Linked DNA regions of Homo sapiens. The protein of the gene in region 1 interacts with the protein of each later gene in a pairwise test. Each region holds a gene or a part of one and is shown in the gene's direction. Other genes may lie near its edges. The genes, in order: SULT1C2 and RASGRP3.

What was found.
Region 2: the proteins of SULT1C2 (region 1) and RASGRP3 interact in a two-hybrid assay, tested with the Homo sapiens proteins (one large-scale study listed by BioGRID and IntAct).

What each region holds. Positions count from the first base shown.
Region 1 is NC_000002.12:108,302,119-108,305,942, forward strand, and holds part of SULT1C2 (sulfotransferase 1C2), read left to right. Parts: intron 1-2,455; coding exon 2,456-2,582; intron 2,583-3,053; coding exon 3,054-3,148; intron 3,149-3,296; coding exon 3,297-3,477; intron 3,478-3,824. UniProt on the Homo sapiens protein: Sulfotransferase that utilizes 3'-phospho-5'-adenylyl sulfate (PAPS) to catalyze the sulfate conjugation of phenolic compounds. Does not transfer sulfate to steroids, dopamine, acetaminophen, or alpha-naphthol.
Region 2 is NC_000002.12:33,517,922-33,521,745, forward strand, and holds part of RASGRP3 (ras guanyl-releasing protein 3), read left to right. Parts: intron 1-2,030; coding exon 2,031-2,093; intron 2,094-2,631; coding exon 2,632-2,763; intron 2,764-3,824. UniProt on the Homo sapiens protein: Guanine nucleotide exchange factor (GEF) for Ras and Rap1.

The sequences.
Region 1 (3,824 bases):
TTAGAAACTGCAGAGGAAACTGAAACTCAGAGAGGCAAATTGAGACTGGGACTCTCCAGGGGAAATCTGATGACCTGGATAATCCAGCAATTTAAGTTTTAATGGCTGCACAGGGACAGGGTCAAAGCCCATGGCACAAGGAACCAGAAGAATGAGGAGCCAAAGCTGGGACCACTGAAGGGCTACATCCTCAATGGATGGGTGGAGGAGGCAGAGAAAGACCTTAGGGAACCACTCTGCCTTGACCTAGGCGCTCAGCTCCCTTGAGAATGTATAGCCACAGGTTTACTCCCTCGGGGTTTGAGATTGAAAATTGCACTCCTTGCATTGTCCAAGAAACTACAAGCAGAGACATTCCACAAGGTGGTCCCCACAGCCAGTGTTCCCAGGTCCGCTCTGGAGGGACACAGCTGCAACTCAGACCCCCATAGGATCCCCACTTGAGCTCACCATCCCACATTACAAAATACACAAAAGAACAAGCCACCATGAGATGCAGTCTTCAGAAAGAACCCATGGAAGAGTCAGACCTCAAGAACTTCAGACAATGTAATTATCAACTCTAGAAATAAGAGAAGGTTCAAGTTGTGTGAATAAATGAAAAAGTGTATCAAAAATAAAATAAAGAAATAAGATGCTACTTTTAGACACAGAAATATTAAGTAAATAAATGGAATTTCTATAACAAAAAAATATAAAATCATGGAAATTAAAAACTCAAGCATAGGATAAAGTGCAGAACAGCTGCATAGAGAATTAGTGAACTCAGACAGGAAGGTTTGAGGGTAAAGGTTTGAGGAGAGAGGAGAGACCTGTGTCTGGAGCTAAGAGCCAAGAGATGGAGCACGGGAGGGATTAATAAAAGGATTATCAAGCAGCAATGAAGAGGAAGAAAACTGAGCATAAAAAATTTAGAAACTAGGGGAATTTTTTAAATCAGCATTTCTTAAAACCTTCTTTACTGGTGCTTGGCAGCTTGGTAAGTTGGAGAAGAGAAGATGGGGAGTAGGACTTAGTAGACAGTAACAGAGTCAACGCTTTCAGGAGCAGGGTTTCTCAACCTTAGCACTTGCTCTAAAGGGCCTGGGACTTGATATAATCAGGCATGGCAAGACATGCAGGTACAGTGGTGACTGTCATAAGGAAGAAGTGTGTCCTCGCAGATACCTAGAACAGGAGGCATGGCATGTCACACAGAGCCTCACAGGGAAGCAATGGGATAGGTCAGGAGGAAGAGACAGTGAGTAGAAGACATGGGCAAGAGCCTTGATGTGGTTTCTTTGGGAAGGAATAGTTGAGGCAAGGTAGGCAGGCTTGGGATTGGCCAGTTTGAACCACTGGAGCAGGCTTTCAGCCACAGGGGCTTGGCCTAGTGGTCTGGTATCTGACCCTGGGGTGTCAGGGCAGGTGAATAATGGCCCAGTGTGTAAAAGCCCAACAGTGGAAGTGTTGGGGGTATAGGCTCTGGGGTGTTGTAGGCAGTTCCTCCAGAGTCAGCAAAGCCCCAGGATGTCAAAGCATCAGATACAGAATATAAAAGACATAATTAATACAGCACTCCTGACATTTGGGGCAGATTTTTCTTTCTTGTGGGTGGGAGCAAGGGGACTCTTCTATGTATTGTAGAATGTTGAACAGCATACTTGGCCCCTGCATGGATGCCAGTAGCACCACTACTCCAAGCTGTGCAACCAAAAATGTCTCCAGACATTGCCAAATGTCCCCTAGTGGATACAATCATCCCATCATCCCCAATTGAGAACCACTTAAAAGTGAAAGAATAAAAAAGCACAGCATTGAAATAGCTGGTCATAGATCTGAGATGCATAGTCAAGAGGCCCATTTGGCATTGATGCCATTAAAATGTGAACTGAGTACTGGATAAAAGGTCAGATTTGGTAAAATGAAAGGTTGGGAGAGTGCAGGGATGTGAAATTGTGGGCAAAGTGGAACTTGAAGGAATGTTTGTAGGGGCAGAGCTGAAATGATTAGAGATGGAAATCATTCAAGCCGAGGAGGCCAGGAGAAAAATAGGAGCTATTTTCTTGCTGTGTGGCTCAAACTCTTAAACATGAAGCTTCTGTGCATCTTTGGGAGGGTGCGCGAGGGGTCATCAGTTTACGTTGATACTGTGGAAGTCTCCTATTCAAGTGGCAGGTCATAGTTTACAGAAAAAGATTTTGCTCCTGATACCAAAGGGGCAATCAGGCAATCTAATCCTCACCAATCCCTAATTGATTAGCTAATTAAAAGGACTGAGTTTGAAGTAGAGAGCAGACTTGGTGACAAAGCAGAGACAGAAAGAAGAGGGAGGTCACAAGGCCAAGTCGCAGGGCCAGCACTGCAGAACTGAGCCAGAGTGCACAGCAACCCTCAGGATGGCTCTGCCTAAGGGAACTCTGTGAAAGTCCACTTTTTATACCATCTTTTACCCACCTCTTTTCTTACCCCAAAGTTCCTTTATGTAGCTCGAAATGCCAAAGACTGTATGGTTTCCTACTACCATTTCCAAAGGATGAACCACATGCTTCCTGACCCTGGTACCTGGGAAGAGTATTTTGAAACCTTCATCAATGGAAAAGGTACGGGAACATCCTTCACACCCTTGCATTCTCACTCCAGCTAGGCTGGGTCTAGGGAACCACAGGCAGCATTTTATCCCCTAGAATGCCTGTACTTCATCAGGTGTGTCCTACCACAGACTGGGACTGGGCAGAGCAAGCTGGCCACTGAGTGTATGCCCACAGCCCTCAGCAAACATCTTCCACCTGATTCAGAGTCTTTAATTACAGCCATCCTCTTCCAAAAGGTGTCCTTGTCCCTATGTGATTGCACATAATAGGAAGCCACTTTAGGGACGATGTTGGGGCAAGTAACCCTAAGGCTGTCCCCATCTACACCACCCTCAAAATCAAACAGATCAGAACCCTTAGGACATATCTAATACAGAATTTGGGTTTTCTCTCTCTAACTCACTTCAGGAAAATCCCTAATACTCAGAAGGTTTTGTGTGATGCCTATGTAGACTATTCTGTTTCCTGTGTCTATTTCAGTGGTTTGGGGTTCCTGGTTTGACCACGTGAAAGGATGGTGGGAGATGAAAGACAGACACCAGATTCTCTTCCTCTTCTATGAGGACATAAAGAGGGTGAGTGAAGGCTCTGCAGAAGAACCATTTTAAAGTGGTTCTTCAGGTGCAGAGAAATTCAAAGTTGTTTCAAAGGACATCCCAGAGAATTGTAGTATTTCTTTATGATACTCTCATTCATTCCAGTCCAATGTTACCCTTGCCGCAGGACCCAAAGCATGAAATTCGGAAGGTGATGCAGTTCATGGGAAAGAAGGTGGATGAAACAGTGCTAGATAAAATTGTCCAGGAGACGTCATTTGAGAAAATGAAAGAAAATCCCATGACAAATCGTTCTACAGTTTCCAAATCTATCTTGGACCAGTCAATTTCCTCCTTCATGAGAAAAGGTGTGTGGGGCCTCTTTATCATACATTCAGATTGTCTCGTAACATCCTGTCTGCCTCTTAGCAGACAATATTGAGTTTTATTAATTCCAAGCCAATGCATTTCAACTATTCCTAATATGTGTTTCTAATAAAACCAGGGATTTGATCCTGTTGTAGAAGAGAGCTTTCTAGGGTATTGTTCCAGTATTTGGTTGCAAGGAACAGAGAGTCCCTCAAGCTAGCCCCAAAGAAAGGGGCTTACTGTGAAGATTCACCATGGACAATAAAGGAAATGCAATCACATAGAAAACTAGGAAGAGGAGCCACCACTGGTCCAGACCTCCCAGGGGCCGCTGGATCTCAGGGTC
Region 2 (3,824 bases), about 75 Mb from region 1:
GCTCATGCTATATCCACAGTGCCTGGCATATACACAAGCTCAATAAATATTTGTTAAAAAGAATATGAATAAATACGCTTACAAGTAAATAACACAACTTGAGTATTAATATACCTGAAAATGACATTTTCAAATATTAAAGAAGAAATTAGAGTACCCATACAGTTACACATAACATAACGACGGGGATACATTCTAAGAAATTCATCATTCGATGATTTCATGATTGTGCAAACATCATAGAGTGCACTCACACAAGCCTAGATGCTGTAGCCTACTACACACCTAGGCTATATGATACAGCCTATTGGTCCTGGACTACAAACCTGTACAGCATGTCGCTGTACTGAATTCTATAGGCAACTGTAACACAATGGTGGGTATTTGTGTATCTAAACATAGAAAAGGTGCAGTAAAAATATGGTATAAAAGATAAAAAGTGGTACACCTGTATAGGGTGCTTATCATGAATGGAGCTTGCAAGACTGGAAGCCGCTCAGGGTGAGTCAGTGAGTGAGTGGAGAGTGAATGTGAAGGCCTAGGACATTAGTGTACAATATTGTAGACTTTATAGACACTATACACTTAGGCTACACCAAATTATAAAAATATTTTTCTTTCCTCAATAATAAATTAACCTTAGCTTACTGTAACTTTTATACTTTATAAACCTTTAAAAACTTTTTAGTCCTTTTGTAATATACACCTTAAAACACAAATATATTGCACTGCTGTAAAAAATATTTTCTTTCTTAATATCTTTATTCTACAAACTTACTCTATTTAAATTTTTTTTTTTACTTTTTAAACTTTTTTCGTTAAAAGCAAAGACAGAAACACACGCATTAGCCTAGGTTTAGGTTTACACAGGCTCAGGATCATCAATATCACTGTCTTCCACCTCTATCTCTTGTTCCCCTGGAAGGTGTCTGCAAGAGCAGTAACAGGCATGGAGCTGGTCATCTCCTATGATAACAATCCCTTCTTCTGGAATAGGTCCTGAAGAACCTGCTGAGGCTGTTTTACAGTTAACTTTTTAATTTTTTAAGTAAAAGGAGTACTCTAAAATTACAACAAAAATAATATAGTAAATACATAAACCAATAACAGTCATTTATTCTCAAGTATCATATACTATACATAACTGTGCACACTAGACTTTTATATGACTCACACAACAGCAGGTTTGTTTACACCACCATCACTACAAACACATGAGTAATGCATTGGGTTACAACATTATGCTGGCTACCATGTCACCAGGCAATAGGAATTTTTCAATCCCACTATAATCTTATTGGACCACTGTCACATATGCAGTCCTTCATTGACTGAAACGTTGTTATGTGGTGCATAACTGTATAAGGCATTAATCCTAAATACAAAATCTTTTTGGTTAAAATAGTGTTTCTCGGCCAGGCGCGGTGGCTCACACCTGTAATCCCAGCACTTTGGGAGGCCGAGGTGGGCGGATCACAAGGTCAGGAGATCAAGACCATCCTGGCTAACACGGCGAAACCCCGTCTCTACTAAAAATACAAAAAATTAGCCAGGCATGTTGGCGGGTTCCCACTACTAGGGAGGCTGAGGCAGGAGAGTGGTGTGAACCCGGGAGGCAGAGCTTGCAGTGAACCGAGATCGTGCCACTGCACTCCAGCCTGGGCAACAGAGCGAGACTCCATCTCAAAACAATGTAGTGTTTCTCTGTACTACCAACTTTAATTATGTATAGTTGCCAGACTATTTGTAATTACAGTTGGCAGTTATTGGTTAATAAGTGTGGAGGAAGGCAAAACTAATCCTGTAAGTGGCTTCTTCTTCAGACCAAAAAAATGCATTCCAGAGCTATAATAAATCAAGTTTCAATTGTTCAGTGTGGAAGTCATCAGAGGCCACTTCTCTCCGTATTTGAGTGTCTATATAACCCCAGCATGGTCCTCTTATTAGGAATTGGTATACATTGAGGGCACAGCTGCAGGGGTGTGCAAAGGAAAGGAGGTGCAAGGATTTTTTTTCTTTAACTGGTTTACGTATCGAAATGCCACTGGAGAAAGCTGCAATGAATTTCGATTAAAGATCTGCTACTTCATGAGGTAAATATATTTACAAATTTAATTTCTTGTAGTTTCTGGTTCTGGAATCGTGGACAATTTCCTTTTCCCCAAGCTGCAGACCTAGTTTGACAACAGACTCTACTCTGATACCCCTCCCACCAACTTTGTTAAAATTGGCTCTCCTCTGTTGGGTGGGGTGGGGGGAACTATCTTTTGGACTAGAGATCAAGTAGTAGTAAATGTGATTACGGAATGAAACTAGCTCTTAGAAAGGGTGGATTTATTTTCTTCTATTCCCTCACCACACCCATTCCCATCTACTCACCATGAATTGAAGGAAGGGTTTCCTCTCAACTGAAAGAGAGGCTATGAGTGGGAGCGGTTTTAGATTGAAGGAGGGCAGAGAGAGGCTCCATGTGATGGATGGGGTTTTGGAGACAGGAGATGGCTAATTTGAAGTGTGGTCCTGGATGGTCCTGGACTTGGTGTTAAATGTAGTCTGTAAAACGGTACAATCGTTTCCATAGATAACCAACTTGCAATCTTCCAGCTGCCAAAAATATTTGATGCCTTTCAGGTACTGGATTCTGAAGTTTCCTGCAGAGTTTAATTTGGATCTTGGTTTGATTCGTATGACTGAGGAATTTCGGGAAGTAGCTAGTCAACTAGGATATGAAAAACACGTCAGCCTCATCGACATATCCAGCATGTAAGAGTGGCACCGACGTCTTTCACACCCAATAAGTCCACCACTTAGGGGAGGAAGTAGTGATCACCCCACTTGTTCTGAGTCCATCCCACTCCTGAATCCAGGTTTGCTTCTGTGAGGAAAGCCTTGCTGCAGTGAGCGCAAGCCGTATGGGACACAGCTCATCTCTCCAAGCTTCAGTTTTTTTTATTTGTAAAATGTGGACGATACCTTTCTCATGAGATTATTATGAACATTCAATAAGGACACAAGATAGCACATGAAAGGATTTGGCATGCAATAGATGCTCAGTGTTAGTTACTGAGTCTGAATCTACTTAATGTCTCTTACACCTTCACTGATTAAAGTGTGGTCTGCAGACCAGCAGCATTGGCGTTACCTGGGAGCTCATTAGGAATGCAGCCTCTAGGCCCCACCTTAAACCTGAATTGGAATCTGCACTTTAAAGATCCCCAAGTGATTCACATGCAAGCTTGAGAAGCTCTGTACCATGGTGCTGCTGAGGTTGGCCTCAGAACAACAGCCTTATGGTGGTTGACCATAGATGTGCCAGGAGCTGGTTAGCTCAGTTATTAGGTAACCGGTGCAATTAGGCCACTTTCATATCAACTAGGTAACTTTGCACAGGGAAGACTATTTGATGATCCTAAATATGGCTATCCATCTTGCAAATGTCTGTTCTTGTGTGTTACGTATTCATAGTCTACTCTGTTTTCCACTGTCGATTACTATTGAATACTTCTTCAATAGTAATCAATAGTGAATGATCCAGGAATTATAAGGGATGTTTGGTGAAAATACATATTATTCAGGATCATTCCTAATAAGTCAGAACCTCTGGCAGCGAGGCCCAGGCCTCTGTCTTTATAACAAGCTTTTCAGATAGTTCATGTTATACTAAAGTATGAGAACCACAGCTTCTAGTGGTTTCCATGTGTCTTAAATCACCACCTATATCCTGATAAACTCCCAAATTTATATACTAGCCCCGACCTTTCCTGTATGATCCAGACCTTGCCGGTCACAAAGACACTAAGTAAGAAATTCTGGATGGTTCAGTG